2 separate regions of the Homo sapiens genome follow, and region 2 is linked to region 1. The links come from fine-mapping of genetic effects on gene expression. A gene starts in region 1. The other region holds a variant in brackets. All regions are shown on one strand. Distances are from middle to middle. Region 1 holds the start of LRRC20 (leucine rich repeat containing 20). Region 2 overlaps LRRC20 (leucine rich repeat containing 20).

Region 1 (12,098 bases):
CAGGGCAGGCAAGGCCAAGCCAGGGCTGGCCAAGCCCACCCATCTGCTTCAGGGAGTTACTGTGAGTTTAGTATGTGTGTGCATTTCCACTAAAGAGGCTGACACTAAAGGTTTGAGACACACACATACAGAACAGTGGGAAAACACTGATTTTGGAGACAGGTCAAATGCTCAACACCCCCATTTATTGGCTGAGAGGCCTTGGGAGAGTTTCTTAACTCCTCTGAGCCTGTTTCTTCTTCATGTGAATAGGAGATCTAGTAATACCCAACTTGCTAGGTTAATATGAGGATTGAGAGCACAAAATGTATACACCTGTCTAGCTCAGAGCCCAGGACACGTAAATACTCAATAAAAGTTAAGAGGATAAAGCAGTGCATATGTGGATGTAACAGCAGCATATAACCCCAGTTTAATACTCATGTGAGTCTGAACAAAACACTGAGGGAACTCATCTTTGAGGAATGAGTGGAATTTCTATCTGTCCACCTCCAGGAAATCTCCTCTTATTGCCTCAGTGTTCTCTCCTTCCTCTGAGTTTCAGTAGCACTTAATGACTTAGCACAAGTCACCTGGATTATTTATGAGCTTTTAAATATACACTTGTCAGCCGGGCGCAGTGACTCATGCCTGTAATCCCAGCACTTTAGGAGGCCTAGGCGGGTGGATCACTTGAGGTCGGGAGTTGGAAACCAGCCTGACCAACATGGTAAAACTCCGTCTCTACTAAAAATACAAAAAAAAAAAAAAATGGTCGGGCATGGTGGCTCACACCTGTAATCCCAGCACTTTGGAAGGCCGAGGTGGGCAGATCACCTAAGGTCAGGAATGCAAGACCAGCCTGGCCAACGTGGTAAAACTCCATCTCTACTAAAAATACAAAAATTAGCTGGGCGTGGTGGCGGGCGCCTCGGGAAGCTGAGGCAGGAGAATCACTTGAACCCAGGAGGCAGAGGTTGCAGTGAGCCGAGATTGTGTCATTGCACTCCAGCCTGGGCAACAAAGAGTGAACCTCGCGCTCAAAAAAAAAAAAAAAAAAAAAAATTAGCCAGGCATGGTCGCACATGCCTGTAATCCCAGCTACTCAGGAGGCTGAGGCAGGAGAATCGCTTGAACCCAGGAGGCGGAGGTTGCAGTGAGCCGAGATCGTCCCATTGCACTCCAGCCTGGGTGACAAGAGCAAAGCTCTGTCTCAAAAATAAATAAATCAACAAACCAACACTTGTCTCCCCCATTGACCTGTGGGCAGCTTGGGGCCAGGGAATAGACCTATACTGTGCTTCTCTCCACACACTGAACACAGGTGCTTAGTTAGTATCCCCTAATGGTGAAGATCAACAGACATCATTTGTGTTTCCAATCTGAATACAGGTCAAGAGACTCTTACAACAAATCTAAGACACTGTCTAAATTGAGAAGGGTCAAAAACCAAATGCCTAATAGTGCCAGGTGGCCAATCTGCATAAGGCGAGCCAGTGCAGGGCAGAAGGGAATAGAAAGGACTGTGGCAAACTGGACCCAACAACTTCACCATGCTGCCTCGAAGACCGTACCCCTAAGCCTAAATCATAGCCATGTTGCTAGCATCTTGGTGACTTGTTCTAACCACTTTATGAATGGGAAAGCTGAGGACCCAAGAGGGGAGGCAAATCAGCTAGATGAAAACAAAAAACCCAGGTATCCTAAGTCCAAGCCTAGGACTCTTCCCACCATTCCATGCTCCCTCCTTTCTCCATCTCCAATTCATCATCAATAATCATAAACATTTACTGAGCATCTCCTAGGTATGAGGGATAAGAAGGAAGAGGGAGAAAGAAATGCAGGAAGCAGCTCCGACTTGCGATTCTGATGAGGAAGAGCTTTCTGAAGAACAGCACTGAAGCAATCCTGGCCTCACAGCAGAGAGGGAAAGGAAGGGAAGCCACCAAGCTGCCCAGGGTAGGGGGTAGGCCTGGTGGGATCACCTGGGCTGAATATTTTCAATCAGGCACTATGCCTGCAATTCTACTAGCTACCACCAGATGGGGAGGTGGTGCCTTAGACCAGCGGTCCCCATCCTTTTCGGTTTCCTGGAAGACAATTTTTCCCACTGTAGTGGGAGAGGAATGAAACTATTCCACCTCACATCATCAGGCATTAGATTCTCCATAAGGAGCACACAACCTAGATCCATCGCATTCGCAGTTCGCAATAGGGTTCAGGCTCCTAGGAGAATCTAATGCGGCCGCTGGTCTGACAGGACGCAGAGTTCAGGCGGTAATGCTTACTGGTGCTCACCTCCTGCTGTGCAGCCGGGTTCCTCACAAGCCACGGACCTATGCCATCCACAGCCCAGGGGTTGAGGACCCTTGCCTTAGACCACTGATGAAAACTAGTCAGATTAAAAATTTCACCACTGGTGGCAAGTTCAGACGTCCTATTGTGTGGGTCAGAGTGTACACAGGTACAGGAACAGAAACAACATGTAAAGTCTAGGTGTCAGGGCAATTCAGTAGGAAGAAGGGCCCCTTCCTTCTATGCCAGAGGATGGAGGATGCTCTGAGTACAGCAAAAATGTGCTCGGGACCCCCAAAAGGTTCCCGCTGCTTAAAATCACCACGCTTATTAACTAGCTAGGAAGCCATCCTCCCTTCACCTAAAACTGCCCCTTTCTCCACAAGGAAGAATTGTTTCATGAAGTCCAGCTGACAGGCCTGAGCTCCTCAGGGTACCTGGTCAATGCCATCTGCAGGGATGGTGGTAGTGGAGAGTCACAGAGTGTTCCAAAAGGCAGAAACAGACACCATCAGCCCACATGGGCCAGATCGCCGCTTGGGGCACCCCAGCCAGCTGGCACTACTGGCCCCAGCCAGTCCCAGGCAATAGAGGGTAGGCCTTAGAAAATGTCAGGGAAAGCACTCCAAATCCCAGAGACACTTCAGCACAGGGTCGAAGCTCATACTCACACTGCCTACATCCTCAAAGCATGGCCCTCTCCACACACCCTCAACCCCATTCCTCAGAGTGAGCATCCTGGTCCGGTGAAATGTTTAAATCCAGCAAACGTCTCCTGGACACCTTCCATAAGGCCCCCACTGTGGGAGTAAAGGGGCAGAGACTGGGTATGGGCTAGAACAAGCTTCCCACTGGGAGGCAGGATGAGCCTGATAGTAGTAAGGCTACAGGGCCAGGCCTAGGGGGGCATGAAGGCACATGGCATGGCCAGGGGGAAGGGACAGGGGTGAGCAGCAGGTGCACAAAGAGATTCAGGAGAGAGAGAGACAGGGAGCCAATGGGCTCCCAGATTACTGAGGAAGGGAACTGCAGCCCTCTTACAAGGCTGTCCTCTGCTTCTGTGTAGCGAACTAAGAGAAGTTTTTTGAGGAAGGCAGCCTAATCCATAGTTTTGCAAAGTTAACAGTGTTGTGAGCAGTCCCATTTGTAAAATGGAAATACCACCTTCCTCACCGGATTATTGTGGGAAGTAACTGATATGTAACTTTTGGGAAAGGACTTTGCGAACCATTACATGTTTCCCACACCAAGGCATTACCAGTAGGTAATCAAACAGGTGTAGAGAGGAAGTTTGGATGTAATAAATTCAATGCCAGACAAAAACGTTGTCCTGCTTTGGGGGAGCTGGCAATACAGCCCTCCTGTCCCTATAACCTGGTTTCACCTGGACTCAGGCTGGCTGGGGGAGGGGTGATTTTTGCTTAAACCCTGACCTGGCCCCCTGACTCCAGCCCTTACCATCAATAACTCTACCTTATCTGCAGTCCGGAGACCTCTGCAAAGGAGCCGCTGCGACAGCCCGTCCCCACCATCTGCTCCTATATTTAGTTACTGGTGTTGTCAGTTGGGAACGTTAGAGCCTGGCAGGGGCTCGGATGGGCAACCGGAGCCTCCGGAGCCATGTGTGCAAGCTGGCCCTACCGCTGGCTCCAGCCCGGGCTCTGGACCATGCCAAGCCGGGGAGCGGGTGGGGAGGTGAGGAGCGACCCAAATAGTCCCAAACCCCCCTTCAGATCAGAACGAAGTTGACCCACTTCCCCACCCCAGGGAAAGAAGCCCGCTGGGACGTGAGCGGGACCTGCTGGCGCCTTGTTTTTGTGGCATGGGGTTCGGGAAGCTCAGCGCGTGCTCCCTCGCTAACATCTAGGCATCCTCGGACTGAGCCTCCAGCACTACGCGCGGTAGCCAGGCAAGGGTCCCCCAGCCCCGCGTGCCAGGATCCGCCTCACCCCCGGTGCCTGCAGCCAATGGCACCTCGTCCGCTGGCCCGGCAGGCGGGGACTGGGAGAATAAAGCTGGCAGAGGGAAGAATGGTAGTGATCGCAGAGGCCCCGGGGCTCCCACGCTGCCCGGAGGCCGAGAGGCACGCTCTGGAGCAGGCGTCTGCAGCTCCCCAGAGCGGAAGCAAACCCCGAAAGTGTCGCTTCGGGGACGAAATGCACAGCAGCCTCTCCAAGCAAGGGCGCCTCCCGCGAGGAATGGAGGCCCGCCTGGGAGCGGTTCTCCGAGCTCCCTATTCCCTGGCACCTCTGCACCCACTCCCCTGAACCATCGGGGTCCAGGTGCAGTGAGCAAGCAAGAGCCCGCGCATGCCGAGCCCCTTGGCACCGCCAGAGCCTCCGCTGGTGCACCGCTGCTCTTTTCCACCGGGTGACCTGGGGGAGGGGAGGGGACGCTGCAAAAATCGGAACACTTCTCGCCCTCTCTCCCCCAGCCCCTGCAACGCTTGACCTCGGACTACATTTACTTTGCGGGGCAAGAAGCGTGTGGTCCCGCTCCGGGCCGCTTTTGGCTCCACTTACGGCGACAATGCCTCCTAGCGCCCTGCGCAGCGCAGTCACGCTCCCTCCGCCGCCGGCGGCGCCCCAGGCGAGTTCCGAGCCGGCGGGGCGGGGCGCGCGGGGCTGCGGGATCTGCGCGCGCGGCCACTCCGCCAATCCCGGCGCCAGGACCGGCGCCGCGGCGGGAGCAGGCTGGGCTCGGGATGCGCTCAGCCAATCAGTGGGGGAGCGGCGCGCGCGGGGGTGGCGCGCGGAAGGGCAGCCCGCGCGCTCCCGGCCGCAGGGAGTAACCGCTTTGTGTGCTGCTTCTAGAGGGAGAACGCCTGAGGGGGCGGAGATACAGAGTGGGACGCGCAGTACATCCCAGGATCTCTAGGACCGGGGCTCCAGATTGGGTTTTCTCGAGGGAATGGAGTTGAATTAGCCAGATCAGGGATACTTTGAAACACGTGAACATGGAGCATAGGGAAATTTTCCTATGATGACTTCGGGTGCCCATTGAGGTTTTTAGTATATGCAAGGCCCTGTGTCTCGGCCCTGCGTCTCCAATCCTAATGTTCTCATCTATAAAATATGACTTGAGGGCGGGGCGCGGCGACTCACGCCTGTAATCCCAGCACTTTGGGAGGCCGAGGTAGACGGATCACCTGAGGTCGGGAGTTCGAGACCAGCCTGGCCAACATGGCAAAACCCCCGTCTCTACTAAAAATACAAAAATTAGCCGGGCGTGGTGGCAGGCGCCTGTAGCCGCAGCTACTCGGGATGCTGAGGCAGGAGAATCGCTTGAACCCGGGAGGCGGAGGTTGCAGTGAGCCGAGATGGGCACTCCAACCTGAGTGGACAGAGTGAGACTCTGTCTCAAAGAAAAAAAAAAGAATATTTAATTCCGCCTCTAGGGGGTCTAGGCAGTCAAAGAACACACATTCCCTTGGGCCTCGATGGATGTTAAGGGTTACTTATGCCCTCTCCACCCCCAACAATATGTTAAAGTTCATCAGAATGTGATCTTATTTGGAAGTAGGGCCGTTGCAGATGTAATGAGTTAAGGTCATGCTGGAGTAGGGCGGGCCCCTAATCCACTGAGACTGGTGTCGTTGTAAGAGAAGAGACACAGAAGAGACGCACAGGGAGAACCACCTGTGGTGATGGCGGCAGGGATCAGCTGATGCATTTCCAAGGCCAGGAGTGCCAAGCACTGCCAGCAGGGACCAGAAGCTAGGAACGGGCAGGGAATAATTCCTCCTTCAGAGCCTCCAAAAAGGAACTAACCCTCCAGACACCTTGATTTTGGACTTAATAGCTTCCAGAGCTGTAAGTGAATAAATTTCTGTTGCCACCCAGTTTATGTCCATTTGTTATAGCAGCCCTAGGAAAAAACTACAATAGGTTAGTAGGAATAAAGAGAAGAGGATGATAAATATCTCCAAAGTAAGTCTTTTGAAACTGATTGCTTAGTATATGCAAAGCCTTGTGTCTTGGGGTATACTGACATGAATCAGACACAGACCCTGCCCTCAAGGGGTTACCAGTCAAGTGGATACTTAAGCAGCCATGTTTTCTGACCCCTTGTGCCTTCCCAGGGAAAACTATGGAGATCTCTCTCAACCCATCAACACCACATCCCTGCCAGATATATAGCAAGTACCAGATATAAATAACTAATGGGTAGAGTCCCATTCTGCCCAAGCCGAGATGCTGCTTGCCACTGTGGACAAAGCAGGCATAGCTACTTCTGTTTTCACTGAAAACCAGCATGACACTTCTACCCAACTTTTACACGTGGATGTCTTCTCTCCTCTGCTAGTCCATACGCAGACTTGAGACAGCCAGTACAGTGTTTCTGTACCCATGGTAAGGGCTCAGTATATACTGCTGGCTGATGGCCCCAGCCTGGGGTTTCCAACATTCATACTTTCCCTCAGACAGTCCCCTGTCCCAGGCAGTTCATCCTGGACCCTCTAACTCCACAGAGACAAGATCCCTCCCTAGCTCAAATCCACCTCTTCTATTCCTACTGTTTTTGCTTCTCCAGAGCACTTAGTGCATTATACCCATTATTCTATCATCTCTGCACAAGTCTTTACTCCCGAGAGTCTGCCTGATTGCAAATACCAGAGCTTGACGCATGTTCAGTGCTTGTATCCATCAGTGTTTCCTGCATAATAAAACACCCCAAAACTTAGTTGTGGCTTAAAACAATAACTACTTATTTAGTTCATGATTTTATGGGTCAGTATTTGAGGCTGGGCTTAGCTGGGCAGTTCTTCTGGTCTCAGCTGGACTCCCTCATGCATCCGGGTTCATCGCCAGGCAGTCAGAAGGCTCTGCTTCTGGGAAGTGGCTAGCTGCCAACTGAGGCAAGTAGGTCGCATGTCTCTCATCTACTAACAGGCTAGCCTAATTTGTTCACATGGAGCTGCAGGGCTCCGAGAGCACGAGTGGAATGGTGCAAGGTCTCTCAAAGTCTAGGCTCAAAATCGGCACTAGTCCACTTCCACAGTTGTATCGACTAAACCAAATGGCAAGGCCAACCCAGGTTCGAGGGTGAAGAAATAGACTCCATCTCCTGATGGGAGAAGCAGCGAAGTCACATTGCAAAGAATATGAGTACAGGGATGAGCAGAGAGTTGGGGCTAATTTTGTAATCTGTCACAGGACTCCATAAGTATTCTTGGGCTGGGCTCTGTGGCTCACGCCTGTAATCCCAGCACTTTGGGAGGCTGAGGCGGGAGGATCACTTGAGCTCACGAGTTCGAGAGCAGCCTGGCAACACGGTGAAACCCCATCTCTACAAAAAATACAAAAAGTAGCCGGGCATGGTGGCTTGGGCCTGTAGTCCCAGCTACTCAGGAGGCCGAGGTGGGAGGATAGCTTGAGCCCTAGAGCCCAGGAGGAAGACCAGGTCTCAAAAAAAAAAAAAGTATTCTCACAATACCTATTGGGTACTCAGAAAATACTTATCAACAGTGGTAAGATTTTCAGTCACTATGTTTACTGACTCCATTCAATGCAGTCAATTGGCAAAATATTATCCCTCACTGTTAGGGTCTACAAGCCTCACACCGTTCGTGGCCATTTTCAGTTTCAGAACAGCCAGTGAGGGAATCAGCGAGGTAGGGCTGTGCAAGGGAAGGCCCTGAGGCTTCTCGGTGAAGAAGCTCAACTGGCCCCAAACAAATAGTCTCCTCCGAGGAGATCCAGAGCATCTTTAGAGGCCTGGACCCCTTAGCAAGGTGGTCCAAGCCTGGCCACCTGAGTCAGAAGCTGTACACCCTGAACAGACTCGGATGTTTGCCAGGGCTTGGCTACAGCCTCCGGAGATGTTTGAAATCCTTGCAAATTACTTGCAGATAGGAAGAGTCTTGTGCTAAGACAAAATTGTTCTGTGGTTATTCCCTGAAGGGTCTGACCCCCACTGGGCAGGATAAATTCTCAGGGCACTTGTAAAAGGGACAGTATCCCATTGACAGAGTCAGCATCTCAACTCCTGTGACTGAAGACCCTGATAGAGTCTACTTCTCATCAAAGAACTTCTAGGCCTGCTAATTAGTTAATTTGTGCGCCCACCCCACATCCACCAGAAAAAAAAAAAGATATGTTGTAGTCCTAACCCCTAGTACCTCAGAATGTGGCCTCACTTGGAGGTAGCGTCTTTACAGAAGGAATCAAGTTAAAATTGAAGTCATTAGGGTGGGTCCTAATCCAATATGATTGGTGTCCTTATAAGAAGTGGTTATTGGTAGACAGGCAGACATGCATAGAGGGAAGATCATGTGAAGAGACACTGGGAGAAGATGGCCATCTACAAGCTAAAGAGAAAGGCTTGGTACAGGTCCTTCCCTCACAGCTCTCAGAAGGACCCAACGAATACCTTGATTTCAGATTTCTAGACTCCAGAACTGTGAGACAATGAATTTCTGTTGGTAAGATACCTGGCCTGCGGCACTTTGTTGCAGTAGCTGTAATACAATATAAAACTGTAAATTTCTCCTTTTCCATTCTATTCTCCTCATATTGGCCCTTATCTCACACTTCTTGAAAGAAAATCATCTTTGCCAGGTGCGGTGGCTCATGCCTGTAATCCCAGCACTTTGGGAGGCTGAGGCGGGTGGAACACCTGAGGTCAGGAGTTCAAGGCCAGCCTGGCCAACATAGTGAAACCCCATCTCTACTAAAAATAGAAAAAATTAGCTGGGTGTGGTGGTGGGTGCCTGTAATCCCAGCTACTAGGGAGGCTGAGGCAGGAGAATTGCTTTAACCCAGGAGGCAGAGGTTGCAGTAAGCCGAGACTGTGCCATTGCACTCCAGCCTGGGCAACAAGAGTGAAACTCCATCTCAAAAAAAAAAAAAAAAAAAGCAAGAAAGTAGAGAGGTAAGGGAGGGAGGAAGGGAAGGAGAGAGAGAGAGAAAGACAGAAAAGAAAAGAAAAGAAAAGAAAAGAGAAGAGGCCGGGCACAGTGGCTGACGCCTGTAATCCCAGCACTTTGGGAGGCCGAGGTGGGCAGATCACCTGAGGTCAGGAGTTTGAGACCAGCCTGGCCAATATGGTGAAACCCTGTCTCTACTAAAAATACAAAAATTAGCCGGGCGCGGTGGCAGGCACCTGTAATTCCAGCTACTTGGGAGGCTGAGGCAGGGGAATTGCTTGAACCCGGGAGGCAAAGGCTGCAGTGAGCCAAAATTGGGCCATTGCACTCCAGCCTGGGTGACAAGAGCAAAACTCCGTCCCCAAAAAAAAAAAAAAAAAAAGGAAGGGAGGGAGGGAGGGAGGAAGGGAGGAAGGAACATTTAAATAAAAACGAACCGAGAAGGTCCTTCCTTCCACAGGTGTGAGTCAGACCCTGCCCCGACACATCATCCTGTTTCTCACTCTGTCCTCCACCTGGGGCCGCACCTCTCCCTGGAGCTGAGCTACCGACAGCCAGGAACTAGAGGTAACTCCAAGTCACTGCCATCCTAAGGCAGAAGAGTAGTTCCCCCAGTACCTCTTCCAGAAGGTTCAGCCTGTTGAGAGGTGCCCACCCCTCTTACCCTGCCAGGTACTGCAGGTTTACGAAAATTAGCAAGAAGTAGTCAAATTAGCAAGAACTCAAGGCAGTTGTGCTCTGCTATGGAAAATACGATTCTAATCAAAGGTGACTCAAGAGGCATTTCTCAAGCGTCAGTTGTTGCCATACCACCTTCCTGATTTTTGCTATATCTGAGCCCCACCCAGTGGTGAGCTGGAGTCACTTGTGCAGACTTGGAGCTTGCTCCTTCTGCCCATTTTTTCCCAGCTCTGGGTACAGTGCCATCACCTGGATTACTAGAAATAGGCATGGTGGAAGAACTTACACCATAGAAATCAGCACACACTACAAATCATGACTTTTTTTTTTTTTCTGAAGGAAATGCTTTACCAACACACCATAGTATTATTTACTTATATTTTTCCTTCAACTCACTTTTTAACTTAAAAAAACATTTATTTTTAAAAAGGAATTTTATATCATTCCACAAGTGGAACATAGTATCATTTGCCATAGATAAAAAGTAACCTTAAAAATAGGGCCTTGGGGCTGGGCCCAGTGGCTCATGCCTGTAATCCCAGCACTTTGGGAGGCTGAGGCAGGTGAATCACTTCAGGTCAGGAGTTTGAGACCAGCCTGGCCAACATGGTGAAATCCTGTCTCTACTAAAATTACAAAAATTAGCTGGGTTTGGTGGCGTGCACCTGTAGTCCCGGCTACTTGGGAGGTTGAGGCACGAGAATCGCTTGAACCCAGGAGGCAGAGGTTGCAGTGAGCAGAAATCACACCACTGCACTCCAGCCTGGGCAATGGAGGGAGACTCCACCTCGAAAAAAAAAAAAAAAAAACATATATATATATATATATATATATATATATATGGGCTTGGTTGGGTGTAGTGGCTCACACTTGTAATCCTAGCACTTTGGGAGGCCTAGGTGGGCGGATCACACGAGGTCATGAGTTCAAGACCAGCCTGGCCGACCTGGTGAAACCCCATCTCTACTAAAAATACAAAAATTAGCCAGGTGTGGTGGCACACGCCTGTAGTCCCAGCTACTCAGGAGGCTGAGGCAGGAGAATCCCTTGAACCTGGGAGGTGGAGGCTACAGTGAGTAGAGATCACGCCACTGCACTACAGCCTGGGTGACAGAGTGAGACTCTGTCTCAAAAAAAAAAAAAAAAAAAAAGGCAGAGTCAGTCTTTTAGAATCCAGTCCTGGTTGTGACATCTATACTTGAAACTGCCTTTGCTAAGTTATAACTGAGGAAATTATGACAGTGAAAGAAATCACACCTAACCGACTCTATCTTGCTTCTAATCTTTAAGCTGTCCTTGTTCATGCCTGGGCGTAGGCTGAACTAACTTTGGGAAGGAATTCAGTTCGTGATTTTACTCCGAAACAAAATTGATAATAGCCCTTTCCCGAAAAGACTCCCTTCTTGTGGCCGGGCACGGTGGCTCACGCCTGTAATCCCAGCACTTTGGGAGCCCGAGGCAGGCAGATCACGAGATCAGTAGTTCGAGACCAGCCTGACCGACATGGTGAAACCCCGTCTCTACTGAAAATACAAAAATTAGCCGGGCGTGGTGGTGCACACCTGTAATCCCAGCTACTCAGGAGGCTAAGGCAGGAGAATTGCTTGAACCCAGGAGGCGGAGGTTGCGGTGAGCCGGGATCATGCCACTGCACTCCAGCCTGGGTGACAGAGTGAGACTCTGTCTACAAAAAAAAAAAAAAAAAAAAAAAGACTCCTTTCTTGCCAGGGACCAGTCTGCCTTTGCAGGACTAACAAATTAGCTACAAGATTAGAAATTACAATTTAGGGGGGTGCCCGCGAACCAACGGTTAGCGGTGGCAGGGGCTGACTGAGAGCGTCTGCTTGATAATGGATTCTGAATTAATGCATAGTATAGTAGGAAGCTATCATAAACCTCCAGAAAGAGTATTTGTTCCCTCATTCACCCAGAATGAACCATCTCAGAATTGCCATCCTGCGAACTTAGAAGTTACCTCTCCTAAGATACTTCATAGCCCAAATAGCCAAGCTCTTATTTTAGCCTTAAAAACTCTTCAGGAAAAAATTCATTGTTTAGAGCTGGAGAGAACACAAGCTGAAGATGACCTGAACATTCTTTCCAGAGAAGCAGCACAGTATAAGAAGGCCTTAGAGAATGAAACAAATGAGAGAAATCTAGCACATCAGGAGCTGATAAAGCAGAAAAAAGATGTAAGTATACAGTTAAGCTCAGCCCAGTCTCGTTGCACTCTTCTAGAGAAGCAACTAGAATATACAAAGAGAATGGTTCTCAA
Region 2 (12,098 bases), 81 kb before region 1:
GAAGGGACGGGCACATCTCATGTGAAGAACAGACCCAAAGCGGGGCTCTGGGGTACAACATGGTATTTGGGTGAGACTACAATTAGAATCCTGTAGCCCCACACAGCTTCCCGTCCACATTATTCCTCCATCTTTTCCAGCATAACAGTACTAGTCCTGGAAACTCTTGCCCAGGAAGAAAAAGTTGTAAATAACTTTACTGTTCGTTCCAGGAGCTTTCTGAAGGAATCATTTAAAGCAACAGCAAACTGATCAACTCTTAATCACATCAAAAGAGAGTTTACGCACCAAGACTCTTTGAACCCTTTGCCTCAAAATCCCCCTTTGCTGTGTCCACCGATCCTAAACTATGTCCTGATCTTTACCCAATCCTAATCGAGGCTTCCTTCTCTGCATTGAAAGTCCCACCTAAAACCAAACTCTGAAATCTCTCATCACTTCCTGACTGTCTTCCCAAGTCTGACACGCTAGGAAAACTGTCAAGTTCGAGCAGGAAAAGTAGAATCAGCTTCTCCTGATTAACAGGTGGATCTGGTGATGTTTTCGGTGAGGCATCCTTCAACAGAAAACTACGCAGGTGGGAGTCCTCTCTCTGACCTCTGACCTTTGGGGTGGGGGAGGCCAGCGGCCTGAGTCCAGGCTAATCCACAGGGGGCAGTTATAAGTGATCACAGGGCCTTCAGGAGCTGAGAAATAGTGACCATATGAGTTCTGGAAATGCCCTTAGGGGTCTCCTGGTTTAGCCCCTTAGTTTTACAGACAGGAAACAGGGCCTGGAGAGGAAAAGAGATTTATCCAAATCACAAAGCTAGCTAGGATTGTTATAGGGATTAAATGAGTTAATAGGTATAATGCACTAAGACACTGCCTGGTACCCACTAAGCTCTATGTGTGTTTGTTAAATAAAAATAATTGGGCCAGGCGCAGTGGCTCACACTTGTAATCCCAGCACTTTGGGAGGCCGAGGCGGGTGGATCACCTGAGGCCAGGAGTTCAAGACCAGCCTGGTCAACGTGGTGAAACCCGGTCTCTATTAAAAATACAAAAATTAGCCATGCATGGTGACGCATGCCTGTAATCCCAGCTACTAGGGGACTGAGGCAGGAGGACTGCTTGAACCTGGAAGGTGGAGGTTGCAGTGAGCTGAGATCGTGCCACTGCACTCCAGCCTGGGCAACAGAGTGAGACTCCGTCTCAAAAATAAAAAATAAAATAAAAGGAATAATGGATCGGCTGGGAGTGGGCTCATGCCTGTAATCCCAGCACTTTGGGAGGCCGGGGTAGGTGAATCACCTGAGGTCAGGAGTTCAAGACCAGCCTGACAAACATAGCGAAACTCCATTTCTACTAAAAATACAAAATTAGCCAGGCATGGTGGTGGGCGCCTATAATCCCAGCTACTTGGGAGGCTGAGGCAAGAGAATCTCTTGAACTGGGAGGTAGAGGTTGCAGTGAGCCGAGATCACGCCATTGCACTCCAGCCTGGGCAACAATAGTGAAACTCCGTCTCAAATAGTAATAATAATAATAATAATTAGAAACAATGGAGCATCTGGACTAAAACTCAAGGCAAACTTAAGCTGGCCTCTCAGACTTAAGAAAAGCAAAACCTGACTTTAACATTGAACCCAGAGCAGTAGTTCTCTAACTTCAGCAGGCATCGGAACCACATGGAGTGCTTGTTAAGAGTGCTGGGCCCCATCCCCGAGTTTCAGATTCTGCACATCTAGGGTGGAGTCAACTATTCGCATTTCTAACTAACTTCCTGGTGCTGCGGATGCTGCTGGCCCAGAGATCCCTCTTTGAGAACCATGGACTCAGAGGAACAAATTACTAAGGGAATAATTTCTGGCACTGGTAAGAGAGAAATGTGGAGATAGTGGGTCTCTTCATCCTTTCCCAGATACACAGTCTCCCCCTGATGTTTAGCCATCCTGCAGTAACGCAGCTGGGGGGCACGCACCAATTCTGCTTGGCTGCACCTGTGCCCACCTGTGAATAATCCACGTTTCATCCCGTTCTAGCCTTCTTTACCTCGTGCTTTCAACAAGAGGGCACCCCTCTTGCATGTGGGCTGGTTTGACGCCCAGGCTATAGGAGGTCTGTACAGTGAGAATGAATCAAACACCAACCAGGCAGATGAAACCAATGCATTCTTTATTGCAGACTGAAGCTTAGGGGCTCACTCACTGTGAGCTCTGATTTGGGGGCATCTGTGGCTGCCCACACTTTCCAAGACAGACAAGGGCAAACTCTCCAAGCAGAGGAGAAAACAACTTCCAGAAGCTGCCCCTTCAAAGGCCTGAGGTGAGGACCTGGGGCAGCAGGCAGCTTGGCATGCAGGGGTTAACCAGAAAGGCCGGGTCTGGAGGGCTGGGCACACCTAACCCTCATCTCCTGGTGACTGCAGGTCACACTCCCTTCTTCAGGAGTGCCATGCAGACTCTGGAACAATCTAACAGGCCAAGTGTCTCCCAGGGTGGGTTAGGGAGGAGGCTGAGCACAGGCTCAGATCCCTGGAAGTGGCAGGGAGAGAACTGAGAGAAACTTCACCCTCTGCTCGGAGGACATCCCCAGCCTAGGTCCTTGCTTCTCAAACTCTAAAGTGCTTATAGGAATCAGCTGGGGGTCTTGCTAAAATGCAGGGTCTGAGTCGGGAGGTATAGGGTGAGGCCTAGACTCTGCATTCCTAACAAGCTCCCAGGTGTCACTGCCGCTGCTGGTCCACAGACCACACTTTGAGTTGCAAGGCTCTGGTCATACATTGTGTTTGTGCACATCAGAGAAGGATGCCTCTTCTTCAACAAGGAGAAACCCCACTCCAGGGCACAAGGCAGGTGGGGCCAGCGCAGCCTGCACAGGACTTCAGCCCCCACTTGCCCCCAACACCCACAGATGAACTCGGTAGCTCTGGAGATCCTGTCTTGACCTCCTCATCCTGAAAACCCTTTGCCCAGAGTTTGACCAACCAGGCCTTGGGATACGAGCAGAATGAACAGAGTCTCTTGAGATACTGAGCGCTCAGTGATGGCCCAACAATGGCCCGACCTATCAGTTCCTTCCCAAGAGACAAGAGACCTGGGCAGGGACGAGGGAACTGGGAGCATTCTGAGCAGGGATTACTGCTCTGAGCAGTGGTCTGAGCTCTCAACATCTTAGCCTTAGGAGTAGTAAAGTGGCCACTCGTCCACGGCACACAGGATTTGGACGGCCTGGCTTTGCCTCAAGCTCTGGGGCCTCAGGTGTCTCTGGAGATGCAAACAAAGATGCAGATCAGGTGGGGTCTGGGGCACTGAGTTGGCTTGCTCCACAGATGAGGAGAAGGTGGGAGGTAGATACCTGAGGACCAAGCAGTCAAGGTTCTTCAAGCCACAGGCGTTCTCGGGAAGCAAGAGCCCCAGGCCCTCTCCTGGTAGGGGACCAACCATCCCCACTTGCTGGGTACTGTCCCAGTTTTAGCATTGAAAGTTCCATGTCCTGGGAAACCAGGACAGCTGGTCACCCTGTTGCCTGACCATACCCTAAGATGCCAGGTTGAGGGCCTCAGAAGAACCAGGTCATCAGGGCTTTGGGCGTTGGCCTGGGAGCTGGCTGGCTACAAATCCCGTGGTCCACATCGCCTTCTGCCCCCAGGAGGCCATGACAAGGCAGCCAGGCTGCTGCTGGACTGGACAGTGGTGAGGGTGGCCATCTAATCACTTTAGACAAGAGCTGCAGGTGTAACTGACTCTGCTGTTCTCTGGGCCACCTCTCCCGCAGCTCAGGAGTGATGCTAGAGGGACGGAGCACTCAGGACTTCCCACCCCGCCAATTTGTTAACTGTGGGGAATGACAGAGCTGACGTGACTTGCTCCCCATTCCCAGCCTGCTGGTCCTCGGGCTCCTACATGAATGTTCTTGCCCTGCAGCAGTGCCAGCCCATATTCCCACCACAGCTCTCCCAGGACTCCTAGTTCAGGTTCCCACCAGTCCAGGGACCACAGGACTGAAGACTGGGCCCTGCAGAGGGCCGCATCCAGGTCAGTTCTCAGGAAGCAATAAATAGATGGAGGTTGTCTTCTCTTCTCAGGGCAGCAACTGGCTCTCAGCACTAAAAACAAGGCCTCAAACCCGCAGGGGCTCAGAAAATACCTGGCAATGCCCACCTGTGCCTGCTGATCTGGAGGTAACTTGGAGGCACGTACTGCTTAAAAACCTCCAGGGAGCCCAAAGGAGGGAAAGGGTCCTGTTTTTTTCAAGTGACAAGGCTCAGAGAGGGCAGGAGATCTGCCTGAGTTTGCACAGCAGCTGTGAGTGCCGAGTCCAGGCTGCAGGCCCCACCTTGCCTCTTCCCTTGGGCATTCCAGAGCCCACTACTGCTGTAAGCTATCTATCCAGACCAGCTGCACCCCACCCACCACGTGCTGCTCGGCCCACCCGCCCCCAGCCCCCAGGCTTGGCCTCCCATGGGCCTCCCTCCCTTCCAGGGTTCCAGGCCTGTGGCCTCTGCCCCTTGCTGGGTGGGCATGAGGAGGGTGGCCTAAGGTAGGGGGGCTCTTGCGCCTTCCGGAGACATGAGCATGTCAAACTTGATGAGCGGCGGGGCGATCACGCGCACCTCGGCGTTGAGTGGGTTGAAGCGGAGGTTGATGCTGCGCAAGGCTGGCATGGCGGCCAGCTTCTCCACGGGCACATCTATTGGGGACAGAATGGACAGGTTAGAGTGGTGGAGGCCAACCAGACAGAAAAGAAGGACAATGGGCCATGAGGACTCTGAGCACCTGATGGTGAGGGGCAGCTCTCCATTGCCCACTGCACGTGGGCTCAGCTCCTGGTGCCCAGCCCTGTGCAAAGGGCCATCGGGCCCACCAGGATATAACAACCACATGGAGGAAAGCATCCTTAAAAATAAGAATCAACTGCTTCAAAAAGTTAAACGTAGGATTGCCATACAACCCAGCAATTTTACTCCTAGGTAGAACTGAAAGAATTAAAAACAGGCATTCAAACAAATAATTTTACACAAATGTTCATAGCAGCACTATTTATAATAGTCAAATGTCCACCAATAGATGAATGGATAAACAATATGATATATACTATGTTGTCCATATATATGTCCATATATATATGATATATGGAATACTATGTAGCCTTTTAAAGGAACGCAATTCCGATACAGGTTACAACATGAATGAACCTTGAAAACATTGTGCTAGGCCAGTCGTGGTGGCTCACGCCTGTAATCCCAGCACTTTGGGAGGGTGAGGCGGGTGGATCACGAGGTCAGGATTTCAAGACCTGCCTGGCCAAGCTGGTGAAACCCCATCTCTACTAAAAATACAAAAACATTAGCCGGGCATGGTGGTGGGTGCTTGTAATCCCAGCTACTTGGGAGGCTGTGGCAGAGAATTGCTTGAACCCACGAGGCGGAGGTTGCAGTGAGGGGAAATCGCACCACTGCACTCCAGCCTGGGCGACAAAGCAAAGCTCTGTCTCAAAAAAAAAAGAGAAAATATTGTGCTAAAGAAAGAAGGCAGGCACAAAAAGACAAATACCGTATGACTCCACTTATGTGAGGTACATAGAGTAGTTGAATTCATAGAAACAGAAAGTAGAACAGAGGTTCCCAGGGGCTAGGAGAAGGGGAA[G/T]TAGGGATTTATTGCTTAATAGCTACAGTTTCTGTTGGAGTGATGAAAATATTTTGGAAATAGATAGCGGTGATGGTTGCGCAACATGGTGAAAGTAATTAATGCCACTGAGCTACAGTATGCTTAAAAATGGTTAAAATCAGCCAGGCTATAGTCTCAGCTAGTCAGGAGGCTGAGGCAGGAGAATCTCTTGAGCCCAGGAGTTCAAAGTCAGGATGGGCAACATAGTGAGACCCCAGTCTCTATTTCTTTTTTTTTTTTTTTGAGACGGAGTTTCGCTCTGTCGCCCAGGCTGGAGTGCAGTGGCGCGATCTCGACTCACTGCAAGCTCCGCCTCCCAGGTTCACGCCATTCTCCTGCCTCAGCCTCCCGTGTAGCTGGGACTACAGGCGCGCGCCACCATGCCCAGCTAATTTTTTGTATTTTTAGTAGAGACGGGGTTTCACCGTGTTAGCCAGGATGGTCTCGATCTCCTGACCTCGTGATCCGCCCGTCTCGGCCTCCCAAAGTGCTGGGATTACAGGCGTGAGCCACTGCGCCCGGCCCTCTATTTCTTAAAAGAAAAAAAAAAGGTTAAAATGGCACATTTTGTTATATATATTTTATCACAATTAAAAAATAATGTAATATGCCAAAACCACCGAATTGCATATATTAAATGGGTGAATTGTATAGTATGTGTCAATAAAACTATTAAAAAACAAAGACTATTATGTGCATAAAGAATATTTTTGCCAAGAGAGAGGAAGTCGCATACAGTGGCCTATGGAAATTCTTCTTAACTATGGGAATGCCACTCTATCATGCCATCTGCTCCATCATACCCCTAAAGAGTCCCTAAAGAAGCAGACATGACTATCTTGGGTCTATCTAAGGGAGGTTAGTTACAGTTTGAATTTATCAGGACTCCTGATAATGTGCCCTACCTATATCACTGCTCCATAAGAGCTATCTGGGAAGTTCCAGACTATATTGGATCATCACTATGCTGGATCATCACTTAGAGATGGAATGTCCTCTGGAATCAAAACAAACATATCTCCTGTCCCAGCTCTAGTTTCCAAAATTTAACGTGTAGAATTTGGAAATCAAGTTTCAAGCTGTCATCCACCTAACTTACATAAGATACTAGGGCATTTTCCAACACTCATCAAAAATGCCACAGTGTAATAAATATAAAGATAGTAGTGATCTATAATTAATTCCAGGTCCAATATTCTCAGTTATAACTGAAGACGCAGCACAGCCTAGTGTCATAGACATGAAATTTAAGACAGCCCTAAGCTGATGCCCCAGCTTTACCACCTAAAAATTTGTATTACTTCCCGTACCTTGTTTTCCTAATCTTGAAAATGGACATAACTAATATTTCCTCAAACAGAATTAAATTGGGGAGCAACTGCTTAAAGGATATGGGGACTCCTTTGGGGTGACAGAAGTATTTTGGAATTAGATAGAGGTGATGATTGCACAACACTGTGAATGTCCTCAATGCCAATGAATTATACACTTTATGTGGTTAATTTAAGTGGTTAATTTTATGTTATGTGAATTTCGCCTCAGTTTTTTTTTTAAAGGACCAGAATAAGGCAGCAGCTATACTAACACTTGGTAACCTGTTATAGTTCCTCCCACCTAACCTTTAGGATCACTCAGACAACACTAGGACGCTTGCCCTCGACGCGTGCCCTGTGCAAGCTGAGGCTCTGGCTGCATCCGCTCTTCCCCGATCCAATTCCGTGAGCAGCCGGATCCCAGAAAACCTCCCACCCTAGCACAGGACGGGGCCAGACCTCATCCCATGCAGTCCGACACAACCTCAGGCCGATAGTGATGGCAAGAGCCAGCTCCTGTCCTCTCCTAGGCACAAAATATTGCCCACGGTTGGGGGCTTTTTGTTTTTGTGGTTGTTTTGTGTTTAATTTTAGAACACACTAATGGATATTATACACATATTTTACTTTAGGCAAATGGTACTGTGCTATATAGATATCAGGCCACTTCTTTATATATATATATATATATATATATATATATATATATTTTACTAAGCACCAATAACAATCTTTTTTAAATATTATTTTTAATTTTTAATTGTGGTAAAATACAAATAAATTTACCATACTAACCATTTTTAGGTGTACAGTTCAGCAGCATGGACACATTCACATTGTTTTACAACCAATCTCCAGAACTCGATCTTGCAAAACTGAAACTCTATACCCATTTAAACAAAAACTCCCCATCCCTCCCTCCTCCCAGCACCTGGCAACCACCATGAATTTGACTACTCTAGGTACCTCATATAAGTGGACTCATATAGTATTTGCCTTTTTGTGACGGGCTTATGCCACTGAGCATAATGTCCTCAAGGCTCATCCACATTATGGCACGTGGCATTGATAATGCAGGATTATTCAGCCTTAAAAAGGAAGAAATGCCAGCCACGGTGGCTCACACCGGTAATCCCAGCACTTTGGGAGGCGAAGGCAGGTGGATCACCTGAGGTCAGGAGTTCGAGACCAGCCTGACCAACACAGTGAAACCCTGTCTCTACTAAATACAAAAAATTAGCCGGGTGTGGTGGCACATGCCTGTAATCCCAGCTACTTGGGAGGCTGAGGCAGGAGAATCTCTTGAACCTGGGAGGTGGAGGTTGCAGTGAGCCGAGATCACACCACTGCACTCCAGCCTGGGCAACAAGAGCGAAACTCTATCTAAATAAATAAATAATAAAAAGGAAGAAACTTCAGACCCATGTCATAACGTGAATGAACCTTGAGGTTCACCTGTCCATGGTCACTTGGGTTGTTCCCATCGCTTGGCTATGATGAACAATGCTGCTAAGAACATGAGTGCGCCAATATCTCTTCGAGACCCTGCTTTCCATTCTTCTGGGTATATATGTGATGTATACCCAGATGTATGAGACCCCCACCCAGATAAAAATAGAAAACATTTCAAGAACCCCCAAAAGGGTTCCCTTGTGCCCCTTTCCAGTTTATACCCTCTGATCTTCTTCATCATTAATTTAGTCTATTCCTGAACTTCATATAAATGGAACCACATAGCATGGGCCACGTTTTTATTCAAATGTCTTTAGGACTTTCAGTTTCAGAAGTCTTAAATTTTTTTACTCAGAAAAGTTGAATATTATTGTCTTAAGTCTCTTCCCCCCTCCTTTTTTCCTTTGGAAATAATTTCAAATGTATAAAATGTTGCAAAACTAAAAATAAAAACTAGCAAAAATACCAGATGACCATTAGCTAGATTTGCCAATTTTTTTTTTTTTTTGAGATGGAGTCTCGCTCTGTCACCCAGGCTGGAGTGCAGTGGCGTGATCTCGGCTCACTGCAAGCTCCGCCTCCCGGGTTCACGCCATTCTCCTGCCTCAGCCTCCCAAGTAGCTGGGACTACAGGTGCCCGCCACCACGCCCGGCTAATTTTTTATATTTTTAGTAGAGACGGGATTTCACCGTGTTAGCCAGGATGGTCTCAATCTCCTGACCTTGTGATCTGCCCACCTCTGCCTCCCAAAGTGCTGGGATTCCAAGGCGTGAGCCACTGCGCCCGACCTAGATTCGCCAATTGTTATCATTTTATCCTATTTGCTCTATCATTTGTGCATGCATTTTCTGTCTCTCTCTCTCTCTCTCTCTCTCTCCCCCACCCCACACACACACACGCTTTTTTTCTGAATCATTTGAGTGTACCATACATACGTCATGGCCCTCAGTGTATATTTCCTAGGAATTGGGACATTCTCTTACATAACCACAGTGCAGTTAAGGGTTCCAGGTATTCACATTGATAGAATGTGTATCTAACCCATGGCCCACAGTTCAGTGTGGTCAGGTGCCCTAACATCCTGTACAGCACTTCCCCCTCTAGTACCAGAGCCAGTCTGGAATCAAGGATTGCATTTACTTCTAACTCTTTGGGCCCCTTTGTCTTTTATGACATTGATATTGGAGGAGTAGTGCACTGCCCCCTTCCCTTTTTAAAAGTTCCTCATTTTGTGTTTGTCTGGTGTTTCTTCACGATTCAACCGAGACTTCGCATCCTCAGCTGAAGACTGCACAGGTGCATGTCCTTCCTGGGGTATCACATCAGAGGCACACCAAATTCATTTCTATTGTTACTTTTGATCACTTGATCAATGTGTAACTTGCTTTCTCCACTATATAATTACTATTGTGTGTTTTTTTTCTCCCTTGCATCTAACAAGAAGTCTGTGGGGACACATCTTAAGAGCGTGCAAATATCCTAAATGTTGGTTCTCACCAACATTTAGCATTCATCACCCTTAGACTTAGCATCCACTAAAGATTCTTACCTGACCTGATCTTTATGATGGCTGCAAAATGATTTCCTAATGTCAACAGTCCTCAGTATTCTACTTCTCTTCCATGTATCTATTATCAATATAGACTCCTATGTTTCTAGTGATTTACAATTCATTATTGGACTTCATTATTCTGATGCTCAAATTGTCCAGATTTGACCACTGGGAGCCCCTTTGGCCTGGCTCCTGTATCTTTTGACATGGCTCCAGCACTTTTTGGATGCACTGCCTGAATTTCTAGGAAGACACGTCTTGAGCCTTCCCTGTTCCCAGCCCTGGAATCAGCCACTTCTCCAAGAAGTCCTGGTTCCTTTCAATGGGGAAGAGTATTAGTGCCCAATAGTAAGTGTGACTGACTAAGCCGTGTTTTACATTCCATCCACGAGGACTGTGTACATCGAATCCATCTGCTTTTGACTGCTGCTTAGTATACCATGCTGTGCACCCACCACACTGTACCTCTCTACTCTGCCAGCAATGACACCCAAGTGGCCTCTATCTGTCCTTAGGAGCCAATGTGGGAAAGTCTTTGGATATATGCCCAGGAGCAAGACTGATTGCTCTGTCAATGAATATGTGTATATACCTCCACTAACTGCTCTCTAGAATTCCTGTTGAATCTCCCAGGAGCTTCCTATCCTGCACCCCCAACAAAGGCTTTCAAAGAGGCTGCTGACCCGTCCTGAGAGAAAGAGCTTCCTGGAGATGTTCTCAAATTGCTTCTAGAATCTTCCAGGCCTCCTTGTTCTGCTGTGGGTCACAGCATAGAACAAATCTATCCCTTCTTGTCCATGACACTGCTGAAGCCTGGAGCTTAGAAAACACCACCACCTTATTTAGGCAAAGGCCCCCAGATCCTTCGCTTCACATGATAGTTGAGAGTGGGTGGGTAGTGGTTATTAAGATAAACAAGCTCTGGAGTCAGAAGGATACGCCCGGCTTTCCAGTGACTGTGGTGCCTCAGGCAGGATCCCTGCACCTGAGCTTTCTCATCTGTAAAATGGAGTCATACTGCTCACCTTGCAGGGAGGTCCCAGAAGTCGACAAGATGCCTGCATGCAGTACAACAGCACAGTGCTCCAGCAACATGTGTCCAGCTAGTGCAGGTTCCCTGCTCCCTGTCACTGGTCTGGGGCCTGCATCCGCTGAGCAGCAGCCCAGATGCCTGGGGATAAGCCCACAGAGTTTGGCCAGCAGAGTCTCAGCCTGAGTTCACCACCCAGATAACCCAGATGTCGGCTCACATAGAAAGGAACAAGGGTTGAGCCTCAGATGTCTCCTAAAAGCACTATGGCTCCCGGAGCCCCTCACCACCACTCATAGAAGGCCAAAGCCCCAGATTTGGCCTCCGCTGAGAGCACCAACAAGAAAGTTCCTGGACATACTGATATTCATAGGCCATTGACAAGAAGCTGTACAGATCATGGCAGAGAGACCACAGGAGGTAGGAGGGTCCTGAAAGTTGCGAAAACCCAGGCTCAGTGGGAGGAAGTAATTTTGCCTGGGGTCACCCAGCCAGTGGGTAGCAAGGCTGACACCGAGACGGAGAAGACTCTTGACCACAGAGAAGCGCTATGCAGGAGTCCCCGGGCCCCGTAAACTGGCAGCCAGGTTCCCTAACGGGAGGAGCTTGCCTACCCTTAGACTCTGGGGTGACCTGGCCTCTCAGTTCCCTGAAGGCAGGCTCTGCGTATGAGACCAGGGGCCCAGTCCACGGCCTTGAATGCTGGGGGACACAGGAATTGCTTACTCCAGGAGCTGTGTCCCCAATAAGAAGACTGGCTATAGGGCAGCCGGGGTTGGGGGGTGTGGCAGGGAGGGGCTGGTCATCACCTGCCTGGAGCAGGAACCATGTGACAGGCGAGCGAGCCAGCAAGGAGGGGTGGGAGAGGCCAGGAGTCCATGGCAAATGGAGGCTCAGACAGGAAAAGACGCAGAGACAGGCTGTTTTCAGAAGGCAGGGTTATAAGCAGACGTGACTCCTCGGAGAAGAGGAAAAGAAAGAACAAGTGCTAGGAGTGCCCACTCACCTCCTTCGCTTTCTCTGGAGCTCATGTGGGTACAAATGTCATACCACACAGCTGCCAGCAGCCTGGCCTCGCTCGTCCCAGCCTCTTGCTGGG

The links. PIP is the estimated chance that this variant, and not a neighbour inherited with it, causes the effect.
Region 2: its variant is fine-mapped to the expression of LRRC20 in whole blood (INTERVAL, PIP above 0.99).

Annotation. Positions count from the first base shown.
Region 1 is chr10:70,377,753-70,389,850 of GRCh38, forward strand. LRRC20 (leucine rich repeat containing 20) reads right to left here and starts at 4,873. Exons shown (of 5, transcript NM_001278212.2): 1 at 4,797-4,873. It also overlaps the pseudogene CEP57L1P1. RefSeq lists enhancers at 4,084-4,703, 4,548-4,747, 5,278-5,377 and a silencer at 4,778-5,147.
Region 2 is chr10:70,296,835-70,308,932 of GRCh38, forward strand. LRRC20 (leucine rich repeat containing 20) reads right to left here. Exons shown (of 5, transcript NM_001278212.2): 5 at 2,141-4,674. The coding sequence ends at 4,520. Among named protein-coding and RNA genes, the nearest start is that of NPFFR1, 19 kb to the left of the region's middle. The variant G/T (reference allele first, on the strand shown) is at 5,631.